Regions from separate parts of the Homo sapiens genome. Here region 2 is reported to be linked to region 1. Evidence: microRNA targets listed by miRTarBase, many of them from high-throughput screens and not tested one by one. Region 1 holds a microRNA gene; the other region holds the end of a gene's coding sequence. Distances are between the middles of the regions.

What was found. Region 1 holds the annotated microRNA hsa-miR-6732-5p (UAGGGGGUGGCAGGCUGGCC, at 2,636-2,655, shown strand). A microRNA usually pairs through its seed, bases 2 to 8, with sites in the 3' UTR of a target mRNA and lowers its output. Matches are read on the target gene's strand: a 7mer-m8 pairs with bases 2 to 8, a 7mer-A1 pairs with bases 2 to 7 and ends in A, and an 8mer does both.
Region 2: the mRNA of CD55 is a reported target of hsa-miR-6732-5p. The part of its 3' UTR that is shown has no 7-base or 8-base seed match.

Annotation. Positions count from the first base shown.
Region 1 is chr1:37,477,600-37,484,718 of GRCh38, forward strand. It overlaps MIR6732 (microRNA 6732), which reads left to right and starts at 2,631; the gene lies at 2,631-2,690. It overlaps ZC3H12A (zinc finger CCCH-type containing 12A), which reads left to right. Exons shown (of 6, transcript NM_025079.3): 3 at 2,691-2,830; 4 at 4,002-4,236; 5 at 4,835-4,941; 6 at 5,138-6,778. The coding sequence ends at 6,012. RefSeq lists enhancers at 1,326-2,152, 1,776-2,315, 2,089-2,383, 2,153-2,979, 6,739-6,868.
Region 2 is chr1:207,358,236-207,365,354 of GRCh38, forward strand. CD55 (CD55 molecule (Cromer blood group)) reads left to right here. Exons shown (of 10, transcript NM_000574.5): 10 at 1,311-2,731. The coding sequence ends at 1,375. Among named protein-coding and RNA genes, the nearest start is that of CD55, 40 kb to the left of the region's middle.

The sequences.
Region 1 (7,119 bases):
ATATCTTTTCACCTGGGGAGGCTGGCCCAGCCCTGCCTTCTGTCCTGGGGCAGGAGCAGCCTAGCTGGAGTCTTCTACACACACATCCTATCAGTGTCTGCTTAGCCCGGCTGGGGGACCCTGACCTTACAGGCAAAGAGAACTGGAATGGGGGCAGGGATGTCTGGTTTTCCTGTGCCAGCAGCGCTTCCTCCAGTGCAGTGAAAGAGACTAAAGCTAGCTGTAGGGGGGCACTCCAGGCCTCATGTGCTCTACCAGGAGGAGGGCTCTGATAGCGCCCACTGATCAGTTTTTCCATCTGCTGAGGGAATATTCAGGTGCTAGGGCTGCTGAGAACCGACTTGTCCCAGCCAAGATTTTCAGTGCCCACAGGCAGTGCACTGCCCTGAGAGCCCTGGCATCCCATTAGTTCCCAGTGCTCCAAGATACTAGCCTAGGATCATGTGCCCGGAGGGAGGCAGGTGGGCGGATACATGCGCACACTGCATACCTGAGACAAGGAGCCAGGCCTGGGATGACCCAGCTGCCATGGTTTTGAGAGGCAGGCCAGAAGGCCCAAGGAAGGGGGGTGATGTGATGGGGGAAGCACTGGGCATTGTGAAGACACAGACCAGGGACCTGACCTATTGTGGCAGGTCAGGGAAGGCTTCTCAGAGGCAGTGACATCTCACAAGGGTTCTGAAGGAAGAGCAGGAGTTTGCCAGCAGCATTGTTTCTCCCGTTCGCCACCTGTCTCTCATAACACACTTTGTTCAAACTCAATTTTGGGAGCTTTGTTCTCCCAAATAAATTCTGGATCTTCTGTTAGAGACAGGAAGGCAACCGAGTGGCCCAGACCTGGGTTCGAGTTCTGACTGTCTCTTACCACTAGCCAGGTGACCTTCCTTTCCTTCACGGTAGCAAGCCCTATAAGAATGAAGCCATATATCTGGCCACCAGCGGGAGCTCAGTGCCTGCGAATCCCTGCTCATTCCCTGCGATCAGGGTCTGTGCCTGCCTTCGTACCTGCCTGAGCATTGACGTACAGGGTAGTGATAAGCATAGGCCCTGGGCTTGCGTCTCTCTTCCACCGTTAACTGCTGTGTGACCCTGGTGACTAAGCTGCCTTCTCTGGACCACAGTTTTCATCTGAAAAACAGGGAAGGAGTTGATGATGGTATAGTGCCCTCCTCACAAGCTTGCTGATGATTCAGTGTTAGACACTTATAACAGGGCCTGGTTCACAGCTCTCAGCAAATGGGAACTTTTATTATAAGCAGGCTGGCAGATGTGGCAGAGGGACCGGGAAGGATGAGTGCTGCCCTGGGCTGGACTTTGTCTCCCCTACAATTTAGAGACCTTCAGACCCTGGTGCCCCAGTCTTGCCCCCAAATAGCCTCCATGGCCCCCAGCTGCCCCACCTCCCTCCCTAGCTTCTCTTAGGGCTCCAGCTATCACCCCTTACCTCCCCCACTCCCATTAAAGACACCCACAGGATGTGGTTGGCCCTGGACTTGCCTCTTTTGCGTAACATTTATTCTGTTTTATTTGCCAAATACGAGAGTCTAAGCTGTTCACTGAGGGGGCAGTGAGACGTGGGGCTGCTGGTCCTAGGAGCTCTTCCATGACACCTAGTGTTACCTGGGAGCCCCAAGCCCCAGTCCCCCATCCCTCAGGAAATCCAGTTGGAACCCCTACTTTGCAGGGCCATCTTTGGCCTGAAGCCACCAGGAAAGCTGTCCCACTGACTGACCCCTCTTAAGGAAGCTGCAGACTGCTGGGCCCATTTTCAGATAGAGGAACGGAGAGCTGCGGCAGCCCAGGAGCCCTGCCAGGCTTCCTTCTGGGTGCAGCCACCTGTGGGTGGGGCGCGGCCTCGTCTGAGACCAAGGCAGGGCCCATGCCTTACTCAGCTGTCCTTGCTAAGAGTCCCCTAGCATCTTCCTGATGGTCTTTCTGCCTTGGGGTGAAGAGGCATTTGGGGGAATTGCCATCTTGGGAGGAAAAGCAGTATCCTTTCACTTTCAGACTGAAAGGCTCCTGGGGAACTTGCTTCACTCCGGCGCTTTCTGTCCCATGCTGAAGGCTGGAGTCGCCAGCCCCTTCCCCTTTGCCTTTCTCAGGCCCCAGTCCCTGAGGTGTGTGTGAGGACTGAACTTTAATCCGGAACAATCTGGTTTCTCCTCGGTCAGCCCAGCCGGTGCTTCCCCCGCCCCCACCCACGCTGCAAGAGGCGAGGGAGGGGTGGTGACTCAGTGTGCATGTGTACATCTGTCCCTGTGGTCCCGGCAGCTCGCCGGGTGGGGCAGGAACCAGAAGTCTCGCGGCACCTTTCCCCCACCCCCAGGTGTGTTGCAAGTGGCCTGGCCCTCCCCCACCGTGGGGAGCAGTGCTGCCAGCTTCCTGGGCGCTTCCTCACTTTCAGGAGATGGAGCCTCAGGGAAAGTCCCAGCGGGGCCTGGCCATCCTGGAGCTGTGGGAACTGGCACTGGGAATGGAGGCCTTGGCCTTGGGCCCCACCTGCAGAGGGCCAGGGCCTGAGCCCTGGGGAAAGGGGAAGGGGCTGGTGACTCCAAAGGGGAAGGGACTGCTCACTACCACCACCAAAGCCAGGGCAGGGGTGGGGTGTGACCACCTCCCTCCTCCTGCTCAGGCCTAGGGGGTGGCAGGCTGGCCATCAGTGTGGGCTAACCCTGTCCTCTCCCTCCCAGCCATGGGAACAAGGAGGTCTTCTCCTGCCGGGGCATCCTGCTGGCAGTGAACTGGTTTCTGGAGCGGGGCCACACAGACATCACAGTGTTTGTGCCATCCTGGAGGAAGGAGCAGCCTCGGCCCGACGTGCCCATCACAGGTGAGTGGTGCCTCTGGAGGTGGGATGGTCTTACTGCCCCAGCAGCCCTGGTTCTCCCCAAGAGAGACCCTCTGGGAGTGACCTACAACTTCTAGAACTCAAGCAGGGACCAGCATTTCTTTTCTCAGTTTTTTCTGTCCTTAGCAACCTGCTCTGAATGGTGGTCATTGGAGGTCACCTTGTCCAGTCTTCTGCCTCAGATCTGGAGCCCCTCCCTCATCCTACTGGTGGGCAGGTCGCTCTTTCAACATCCCCAGTGGCAGAAGCGCAGTATCACATAGTGGTTAAGCCTGTGGGCTCTGAGTCGAGACAGCCAGAGTTGGAATCCTGGCTCTGTCCCCTCTTGGCGCCCTGGCCTGGACAGGGACCCCTCTTAGCCCTGCTCTGAGCCACATGCTCCTCATCTGAAACATGGGGTCGGTGTCAGCAGGGGGTGTTGACAGCATTGCCTTCCTCGTGAGGTCATATAAGTTAACACACGGTAAGTGCTGAGAAGAGTACCTGGCACATGGTAGATGCTCAGTGTATGTTAGCTGTTACCACTGTTCTTGCAAGAGCCCCCAGCCTTTGGAGGTAAAAACTGAATCAGTTTCTCTAGAAGTCTTGAGATCTGGGGGCAGCCTGTCTGGGACTGTAGGCTCCAGGAAGAGGGGCCCTTTCCACTTGCACACTTCTGTGTCCCTGTGGTCCCAGCAGCTCCCCAGGTGGGGCATGGTGAGTGGCCTGACCTTTTCCCACCATGGGATTTAGCGACCTTGTCCTGGCAATGCAAGGGACAGAGCCAAGATACTTCTCCCACCCCAGAGCAAGCTGCGGCTCATTCACGGACCCCTCAGAACAGGCTGGATGAAAGCCAAAGCCAAGACCACATCTGGCTTGAACAGGCCTGATGTCCAGAAGGAGAAAAGGAACAAGGCCAGCTCTGTGCTTGGAGCCTCTGCCATGCAGGCCCTGCCGCCTGTGTTCAGATGTTCTTGGTCTTCAGGCAGCAAACTGTGCCACGCCAAGGGAGGGGCTGGGGCATGGAAGAGGCCTCAGCAGAGTTAGTTCTTGCCCCGGTGACCTTGGCGTTAACCACTCCTGTGTGTGGCCATCAGCAGGTTAGGGAGCCCTGTAGGCCTGGCTCTAGGTCCCGCTGGGCCCTGACCTGTGTGCACCCGTCACCTCCCAGACCAGCACATCCTGCGGGAACTGGAGAAGAAGAAGATCCTGGTGTTCACACCATCACGACGCGTGGGTGGCAAGCGGGTGGTGTGCTATGACGACAGATTCATTGTGAAGCTGGCCTACGAGTCTGACGGGATCGTGGTTTCCAACGACACATACCGTGACCTCCAAGGCGAGCGGCAGGAGTGGAAGCGCTTCATCGAGGAGCGGCTGCTCATGTACTCCTTCGTCAATGACAAGTATGTTCCCTCCCAGAGGCCCTGACAGACTTGGGGTCCACAGGGGAAGCCAGAGGTGCCCTTGGCAAGGGTGGAGCTGGGGGCTGGGCTCTGCGGGGCCCTGTGGCCATGGGAGGTTGCGGGTCTTGGCTCCAGGCAGCTTTGAGAGTGAGACGGATAGCTCACCACATAGGAGAAATCAGACCGGGACCAGGCAGGCTGTGGGGTGGAGAGAGTGGCTAATTTGGGAGATAGAGCCGTAGCACTTATGAGGGGATGTATGTGGTTGATGGTTCCAGGTGGCCTCTCTACGAACCAACATGGCATCTCTCGAGCAGAGGCCATGGGCCAGTGGGTGCGGGCTGCCATCCCCCGACGACCTCAGAGAGGGAGTTCCCCTAAAGGTGCCCATGGGCTGTGGCCCTCTAGACCGGGGATCCCTTTCTCCTCCCTTGGTATGATCCCACCCATAGAGCAGTTTTGCGGGGTCCTGGACAGGCCCCAGTTTTAGGTGTCACTCTCCTATTCTTCCCAGCAAGGCTTGCCATCGGCCCCTTCTCAGCAATTAGAAGTCCCTGCATGGCTCCCACCTCCAGAGAGTTCTTTGCACCCTCTGCAGGTTTATGCCCCCTGATGACCCACTGGGCCGGCACGGGCCCAGCCTGGACAACTTCCTGCGTAAGAAGCCACTCACTTTGGAGCACAGGAAGCAGCCGTGTCCCTATGGTATGGAACCCAGCCTGCCCTCCCCGGCCCTCCTCACTCCTGCCCTTCCTCTCACCTGTCTGCCTGTGCCCTGTTTTCCTCTTGGGGACCTCCACCATTGGACCACCCAACCCCGTTTCCTGTGCCACCCCTTCCCTGCTCTCATCCCTGGTTCTGAAGTGCCCCTGCTTAGAGTCCCTCTTGATTCCTCTTCCAGGAAGGAAATGCACCTATGGGATCAAGTGCCGATTCTTCCACCCAGAGCGGCCAAGCTGCCCCCAGCGCTCTGTGGCAGATGAGCTCCGTGCCAATGCTCTCCTCTCACCCCCCAGAGCCCCAAGCAAGGACAAAAATGGCCGGCGGCCTTCACCTTCATCCCAGTCCAGCTCTCTGCTAACAGAGAGTGAGCAGTGCAGCCTGGATGGGAAGAAGCTGGGGGCCCAGGCATCCCCAGGGTCCCGCCAAGAGGGTCTAACACAGACCTATGCCCCATCAGGCAGGAGCCTCGCACCTAGCGGGGGCAGTGGCAGCAGCTTTGGGCCCACAGACTGGCTCCCACAGACGCTGGACTCACTCCCGTACGTCTCCCAGGATTGCCTGGACTCGGGCATTGGCTCCCTGGAGAGCCAGATGTCGGAACTTTGGGGGGTTCGAGGAGGAGGCCCTGGTGAGCCGGGCCCACCCCGAGCCCCTTACACGGGCTACAGTCCCTATGGATCTGAGCTCCCAGCCACCGCAGCCTTCTCTGCCTTTGGCCGGGCCATGGGTGCTGGCCACTTCAGTGTCCCTGCCGACTACCCACCCGCGCCCCCTGCCTTTCCACCTCGAGAGTACTGGTCTGAACCATACCCACTGCCCCCACCCACATCAGTCCTTCAGGAGCCCCCAGTGCAGAGCCCAGGGGCTGGCAGGAGCCCGTGGGGCAGGGCAGGCAGCCTGGCCAAGGAGCAGGCCAGCGTGTATACTAAGCTGTGTGGTGTGTTTCCCCCGCACCTGGTGGAGGCTGTGATGGGGCGCTTCCCACAGCTCCTGGACCCCCAGCAGCTGGCTGCCGAGATCCTCTCCTACAAGTCCCAGCACCCCAGTGAGTAAGCTGCCTGTGGCTGGCAAGGGCAGCACCCCCAGCCTCCAAGGGCCGTCAGGCTGGGCTTTGGGCCATTGAGCAGCCCATTCCCAGCCCTGAGGCCCACCCCAGAGGCTGGACAGAGGGAGGATTCAAGTCGGGAAGGAAACCCACAAACCAAAGATACTGTAGGATTGGTTCTGGCCCATGCAGCACCTCTAGCTGTCTGCCTCAGTGGGTCAGAAGCGATCACCCTGTTGATACACATTGTATCTCTGTAGTTTAAGGAGACGCTGCCGGTAACGGCGTCGGTCCGTGGCTGAGGCCCAAACCGTCTTTTCTCTCAGAGGGTGGGGAGGGAGGTGGGGGCAGCAGAGGCCTGGGCTGGGTGCCCTGTGCACGCCACCCCACTTCCGCCCTACCCCTGGGACGTTGGCCTTGGCTGGCTAGTTGGGCACCGTGTGCCTGCCCTCCAAGGGCCTCCTCTACGCCAATGAGGCCTCATCTGTGCTCTCGCTGGGCACGTGGCTTCATGTCAGTAAGCAAGATGCTTCTTAATAACCCACCTTCTGCCCCACTCTATTCCTTATCCTGCTGCCCCTGTAGGGGTCAAGGGCCCTCCGTCTACACCCTCTTCTTCTCCTCCATCCTTTATTCAGAGTCATCTCGCCCTTCCCCATGGGTGGGGGAACCTGTGTTTGTTTGTGTGCACATGTAAATTTTAAATATTTTAAGCAGAAAGTCCTTACCTCCTGTAACACATCAATAAAGTACAATCATTGTGAGCCCTTTCAAGAGGTGATTGTCTTTGTTATGCTCAGGGCTTTGGGCTGGCCTCTGGGTGAGGAAAGGCCAGCAGGTATGCACCCCGACCTCCTTCACCCCAGGAGGAAGCCCCTCCACACCAGCTCCCTGACCCTTCTCTGGAAGGAAGATTTCTAACAAACATTCACCAGGAATGCATAGCTCCTTGGGGATGGGGCATCTTTCCCGAGGCCTTGGTCTGGGCCTTGTTAGGAGGTGCCCATGGACGCACGAGCGGGCAGGGGGCTGGAGGGGGCAGTTAGGCAGCAAAAGTGTAAAAGGATTTGGAGTCCAGTTTTATCTGCAAAAAGAAATCTTACTTACAATATACT
Region 2 (7,119 bases), 170 Mb from region 1:
ATATGTTTGGCTAGCCTCCTGATTTCATACTGATTTAATTAAATATTTGATCTTAATTAAGACAGGATATAGTTAATGTGCAAGTGATAATGTGGTTTCATTTAATGATTCTTCATGTTTGCCTATCAGAGGATTGATTTATTTCTTTTAGAAGAGTTAGGTCTGTATGATAAATTTTAGTTTAGGGATGGAAGTGTAAGCAGATGCCTGACTTCGTTTTTTGATTGAAATGACAGTTACATAATTCAATTCAATAGTTTTTTTCTTCTCTACTATTCAGCTCTTATAATGCACATGAGAGCAACAAAGTACTCAATGTTGTGTTTGACCATTTAAGTGTGACTGGTGGTACCTCAGAAATAAGACTTTCTGGTAAATTATAAAAGGTATATATGGTTTAATAAAATTACATTTCTGTATCTTGCAAAATATCCATTAATACCCTTGGCTAGGGGGTTCTTCATGACTTTTAAAGGATAATAGAGGCTTAAGTCTCTGTCACTAGAGTTGTTTTTTTCTTTGTTGAATGACTAATACATTGAATCTCTCATTACTATGACATATCGTCAGTTCTGGACTTGGTAGCAGTAATGCTTATCATCTCATCCTACATTTTGAACTCAGTTTATTGTAACGATTAGATGCTATAATGCCACAAATATTCGGGGGGAAAGGGATGATACATTAGGACTTTTAAAGAGAATGCCTTCATTATGATAATTTGCATCATGAGATGGTTGACCTACCTTGTATTTCTCCTTTTGCTTGGTGGCTTTTAGAGTTTTCAATGTTTAAGAAAAATTATAATATGTGCTAAGATATCCTTTTATAGGTCATGTTTATAGATCTTAAAAGACATCTCATATCTTTATACAAAATTATCACACAAAAATAACTTGGTGTAAATGTATCTGTAAAACTTTCTGAGTGTCTTCATCTCTTAATCTTCTCTTCCACATGTAGTAGTATTCAGGGGTTTTTATTTATTTTTATATTTTTTTAACATCTCCCACACTTAGGAATTCATTGACTTTTAATCTGAAGGTACCTTAATTCATTCTAGCTTAGCCACTGTTCAACTCGAGAAACTAAAAACTCCACGTCACATTTTAGTTGTTGCTGTAGCTGATAAACCCCACCTGTAGAATCTTGTCCATATTCTATTACTCATTATTTTTTTTGTTTTGCACCCCAAATTAACTGATTCTTTTTGGTGATTTATCACATAGTAACTAAAAATTTATATTTATCACTAGTAAATAAAATCATTTTGATTTTAACTTTTTTTTTTTTTTTTTTTTAATTTTCAGGGCACACGTGTTTCACGTTGACAGGTTTGCTTGGGACGCTAGTAACCATGGGCTTGCTGACTTAGCCAAAGAAGAGTTAAGAAGAAAATACACACAAGTATACAGACTGTTCCTAGTTTCTTAGACTTATCTGCATATTGGATAAAATAAATGCAATTGTGCTCTTCATTTAGGATGCTTTCATTGTCTTTAAGATGTGTTAGGAATGTCAACAGAGCAAGGAGAAAAAAGGCAGTCCTGGAATCACATTCTTAGCACACCTACACCTCTTGAAAATAGAACAACTTGCAGAATTGAGAGTGATTCCTTTCCTAAAAGTGTAAGAAAGCATAGAGATTTGTTCGTATTTAGAATGGGATCACGAGGAAAAGAGAAGGAAAGTGATTTTTTTCCACAAGATCTGTAATGTTATTTCCACTTATAAAGGAAATAAAAAATGAAAAACATTATTTGGATATCAAAAGCAAATAAAAACCCAATTCAGTCTCTTCTAAGCAAAATTGCTAAAGAGAGATGAACCACATTATAAAGTAATCTTTGGCTGTAAGGCATTTTCATCTTTCCTTCGGGTTGGCAAAATATTTTAAAGGTAAAACATGCTGGTGAACCAGGGGTGTTGATGGTGATAAGGGAGGAATATAGAATGAAAGACTGAATCTTCCTTTGTTGCACAAATAGAGTTTGGAAAAAGCCTGTGAAAGGTGTCTTCTTTGACTTAATGTCTTTAAAAGTATCCAGAGATACTACAATATTAACATAAGAAAAGATTATATATTATTTCTGAATCGAGATGTCCATAGTCAAATTTGTAAATCTTATTCTTTTGTAATATTTATTTATATTTATTTATGACAGTGAACATTCTGATTTTACATGTAAAACAAGAAAAGTTGAAGAAGATATGTGAAGAAAAATGTATTTTTCCTAAATAGAAATAAATGATCCCATTTTTTGGTATCATGTAGTATGTGAAATTTATTCTTAAACGTGACTACTTTATTTCTAAATAAGAAATTCCCTACCTGCTTCCTACAAGCAGTTCAGAATGCCATGCCTTGGTTGTCCTAGTGTGAATAATTTTCAGCTACTTTAAAATTATATTGTACTTTCTCAAGCATGTCATATCCTTTCCTATTAGAGTATCTATATTACTTGTTACTGATTTACCTGAAGGCAATCTGATTAATTTCTAGGTTTTTACCATATTCTTGTCATCTTGCCAATTACATTTTAAGTGTTAGACTAGACTAAGATGTACTAGTTGTATAGAATATAACTAGATTTATTATGGCAATGTTTATTTTGTCATTTTGCTTCATCTGTTTTGTTGTTGAAGTACTTTAAATTTCATACGTTCATGGCATTTCACTGTAAAGACTTTAATGTGTATTTCTTAAAATAAAACTTTTTTTCCTCCTTAACCACAGTTATCACAACTAGCAGTTGTGATAGTTTCTAATTTCCTAATAGTTTCTAATATTAGGAAATTCTTTGAACTTTCCTAGAAGTTCTAAGAGTAGGCACATATCCATCCACCTATTCATTCATTCATTTGTTAAATATGAGGGCCCGCTCTGCCTATTCTGTAATAACCCAGTGCTTCCAGGGATAGCAATAACACTGGCTCAGCTATTCAGAAAAAAAGCTGAGTGCCTACTATGTGCAAGTTGTCATATGCTAAAATGTGAGCTTACCAAGATAACTGCAAGTGTCTGCCCTCAAGTTGCTTATAGTTTGCCACAGGAAGACCAAAATATATACTTATTGAGAGAAAGAAGATAAAGTTACGAGTGTTACAGCCCCGAATATGGTGGGTGCTTAAGCTGTTTGTTAAGCAGTTGAGTGGCAGGGAGGGAGATATTCAAGGCAGAAAGCTGATTGAGAAAGCAGTAATAGATGAGATTATAGTGGCAGGATGGTCGAAGTAGGAAAGGCTTAGAGCAAGGGCTAGACTATGTCATGTGTTCTGTGTAGAAGTGAAAATTTGTAAGCTCTAGACTTTTTATTCTGCTCGATCTAATTAGAATCAGTGAGCATAAAATAGGTTTCTAATAGCAAGAACTTGCTATTTAGATAAGGGTAAAAGCGGAAATACTATTAAACAGTCATTTACCTTGAAGAAAATATAAACAGTAGGCTTGTGAGGGTAAAGATATTTTCTTGTAGGATTTATATTTACCGTGTATCCTGTAGTTATGAGGTTGAGTGGTTTTATTTTTGCTTAAGATAACCTCTCCTGTGAGATTTTACTTTGATTGCAAAGGTTGTATTGCTTTTCCTCTTGAGACTGATGTATTTGTTACAGCAAGTTATACCTGCTCACTGTAGAAATTTGAGTTTTATAATATTTAGCCCCCTATCACTGTCACTTTTCTGGGAATACTTGAACATGAATAATTTTTGTCTTGTCACACCCTAGCCCTGTTTGCTTTGGTTAATGTCCAATGTGCAAATGCCTCATTTTCCTCCCACCCATCCTGAGTGTTTTCTTCCTCCTTACCGAAACTAAAAACAGCCCCTTCCCTGAAGGTACTGCTTCCTTTGCAGCCTATTCCAGTGGTGGCTGGTTTATTTTCATCCATATGACTCATTGTTAAGAGGTGGCGGAGGTGTTTTCCTTGTTCCTTTGTCATGTCTTCCATCTCAACCCCCACACACATCTCTTTAAAAAGAGTAACTGTCCATTCACTCTGGTAGGGTAATTTACTAAAATGTCAAATGTTTTTCCTATAATTCTCCTTGGTGAAAAGCATGGATTCTGGAGACAAATCGGAGCCCTGGCATTTATCAGCTGCAGGACTCAAGGGATGTTCCTTGTCAGTGTACCTTAGTTATCTATGTGTAAAGTGGGCCTAAAATCAGTACCAGCCTCATAGGATTTGCAATGAGAATTAAGTTAATACACGTAGAGCTTAAAATAGTGCCAGCCATGTAGTAAGTGCTCAGTAAGTTTTAGCTCTTTTTAGTGCACAGGTGGAGAGATTGCCTTAGGTGGAAGCATGCAGGGCTTCAGTACATACTAGGAGGGAACTGTTGCAGGTGGGTTGGAGATGCCCATGGTGGCAGCTTTTGGAAATTGATTTCACATTTCTTCTGTTTTCTCAGGGACATATACATCAAGGTCATCATAAAAATGATGACACATGAGGAGGTGTTATGTTTGAAGACAGGCAGAGAAGGAAAGGACTAGAGACATTTAGTCAATTAGCAGGCAATGCTAAAGACCCAGTTGAGGTGAGTGCTCATGAATTTAGAGTGCAATCATCAAGCTTCGTTCTGAGTTTTTCTGCAGTCATATTTAGCTTTCTAGATACAGTCTCAGAAAAAACCAGTTGCTTGGATTTAATCATGATTGGGTGTTCCCAGGTGAATTTGATGACGTGAGTTGAGCATGTGCACAAGGGAGTGATTAAAATGATGGACCATAGAATTTAAGCTATGTGAGAAGGGAAGTGAAGACATATGAGTGGTAAGAAACAATGAGTAACAGGATCAATATTTTGTAGACCTTAATGGGGTCATGTCATTGTTAGACTTGGGGTACTATTTAGGATGAACTAGAATGGTAATATGCAGTAGTGAGAAATAAGAATGCGTCAATTGAGGGTAAAACAGAATTGGCAACCAGAGGACAAAGCTGTCTACAAATACACTTCCCCTTCATTTTGGGCACAAAGTTAGACACATTTCCTGGCACTCTTGCAGTTAAGTGTAGACATAGGACTGAGTTCTGGCCAAAGGAACGTGATCAGAGATGTGTAGCATTTCTGGGTCTGGCCCTAAAACATCCCCATATGTGATCCTCCTTGCCTCCTTCCCTACACTGAGTTGATGAAAGTGACTGTAGTAACCTAGTAAGTCATGTGCTAAAGATAACAGAACCACAGAAAGGAAGGAGCTTGAGTCATTGCTTTGAGGAGAGCTGTCTGCTGATCAAGAACACCCACTTTAGATTTCATGTGAAGAAGAAATAAACTTCTGTAATGTTTGAGTTCTAACATTTTGGGGATTGGTGTGTTACGTTATTGTGGTTGACATTATCTAAACTAACACTGAAGCCTTCTAGATTTTGGTGATACAAGGGTTTAAACAGAACTATGGTTGTGAGAAGTTGAGATAAAATGGTGGACAAAAGTATTGGTGCGGAGGAGGCCATGGAACATCTTAATTGATACTGAAATCACCAAGAAGCATGGGGATTCATGTTAGAGAGTGATACTGAGTCAGGGGCTAAAATCTTCACGAAATGAGTGGTTTGTACATCTGAAGATGATTGCAAACAAGAAGATAGCAGGTGCTATATTCTGATGATACGTGACTCGAAGGAAAGGGTTTTGTGGAAAGGAAGGAGGACTGGTCTGCAAATAGCAATGATGAATAAAATAGGGCACCAACTTCACCTCTATGCCTGGTACTATGTGGAATGAAAGTGCAATGAGATATTTTTGCCTATCAGAGATTTGTTTGCACATTCAAACCCACTGTATGATCCTCTTCCACCCCTTGTTATTGCAATCCCCCTACTTTCTGGTCACCCACCCCTGTCTGTTGAGGGATTTGGAACTGGCTCACTGTCTCCCAACCATCCTACAATCTGGTATTATCCATAATTATTTCACATTGACAAGGATGACTCCTTATAACATCTGTGCCTCTGGTTTTATTGACCTTTTGATTTCTAATGACCTCCTTCACTCTACCTGAGTCACTCATCTCCATGGAACCTTCTTAAATCACTAATTCAGGCATATTTTCTTGCTCAATATAATCTTTTCCGCTTTCTAGTTTAGTTACTGCAGTATGTTCATCAACTCTCCACTTTCTTCCTATTTATAAGTCTCCTACTGTGATGGATATTTTCTGTTTGTTCATCCAGGACCACTCTCTAGCACACTCCAACTTGCTGTGACCTCAGAGGCTGACCTATAATGGAAGCTGTGGAGGGGAGAGCTGCATTCCTTCTAATTTTTGTTTTGTCTCAAAACACTCCACAACTTCTTATTTTATTTCACTTTTTTTTTCTACCATCCTATCACCAAAGGATGGCTCCCCTTCCTTTTGACCTTTTCCTCTTTTAGGAACTACACCTTTCAAAGGCTATCAACTCAGATCACATTATGTTTATGGCCCTTTCCTGAAGGTAGTGCTTGTAGTTAGTGCTCTGGTCTACAAGGACACCTTTTCAGCATTTTCATTTTTACGGCAGACTCTTACTTTCTGGCAATGGTTTTGGAGCAATTTGAGGACTTTGCTAGCTCAGCTTTTTTCACTTTCATTGAAGTCTTTCCACAGACTGCCCTTGCTCACCACAGAGGCTTCTAGGAGCAGTGTGAAGGACTCCTGGGTTGTTTTTGTTTTGTTTGTTTTCTTATAGGCAATTTGAAGTAGGTGCTTTGTCTTCTAGTTATGTTGAGAATGTGGTTTTCATGTGACCAGACTTCCTATTGGTGTGGCTGTGGAAAATCAGATGTTTTTATATATTATTGGTGGGAATGCAAACTGATACGGCCATTTTATAGGGGAATTTTCCAATATCTAAAAAAAACCCCACACATACGCATTTACCCTTTGATCCACCAGTCTCACATCTAGAAATGAACTCTGAAGATATACCTCCAATAATATGAAAATATACAGTACAAGGATATTCACCAAAACATTGTTTGTCATTGCAAAAGACTGGAAACCACCTAAATGCTCATATGTAGGACTTGCTCAATAAGCTATGTTATATCCAAACAGTGGAGCATTATGCAGCTCTGAAAAAAGAATGAGGAATATCTGTATGAACTATTATGAAGTATTTCTA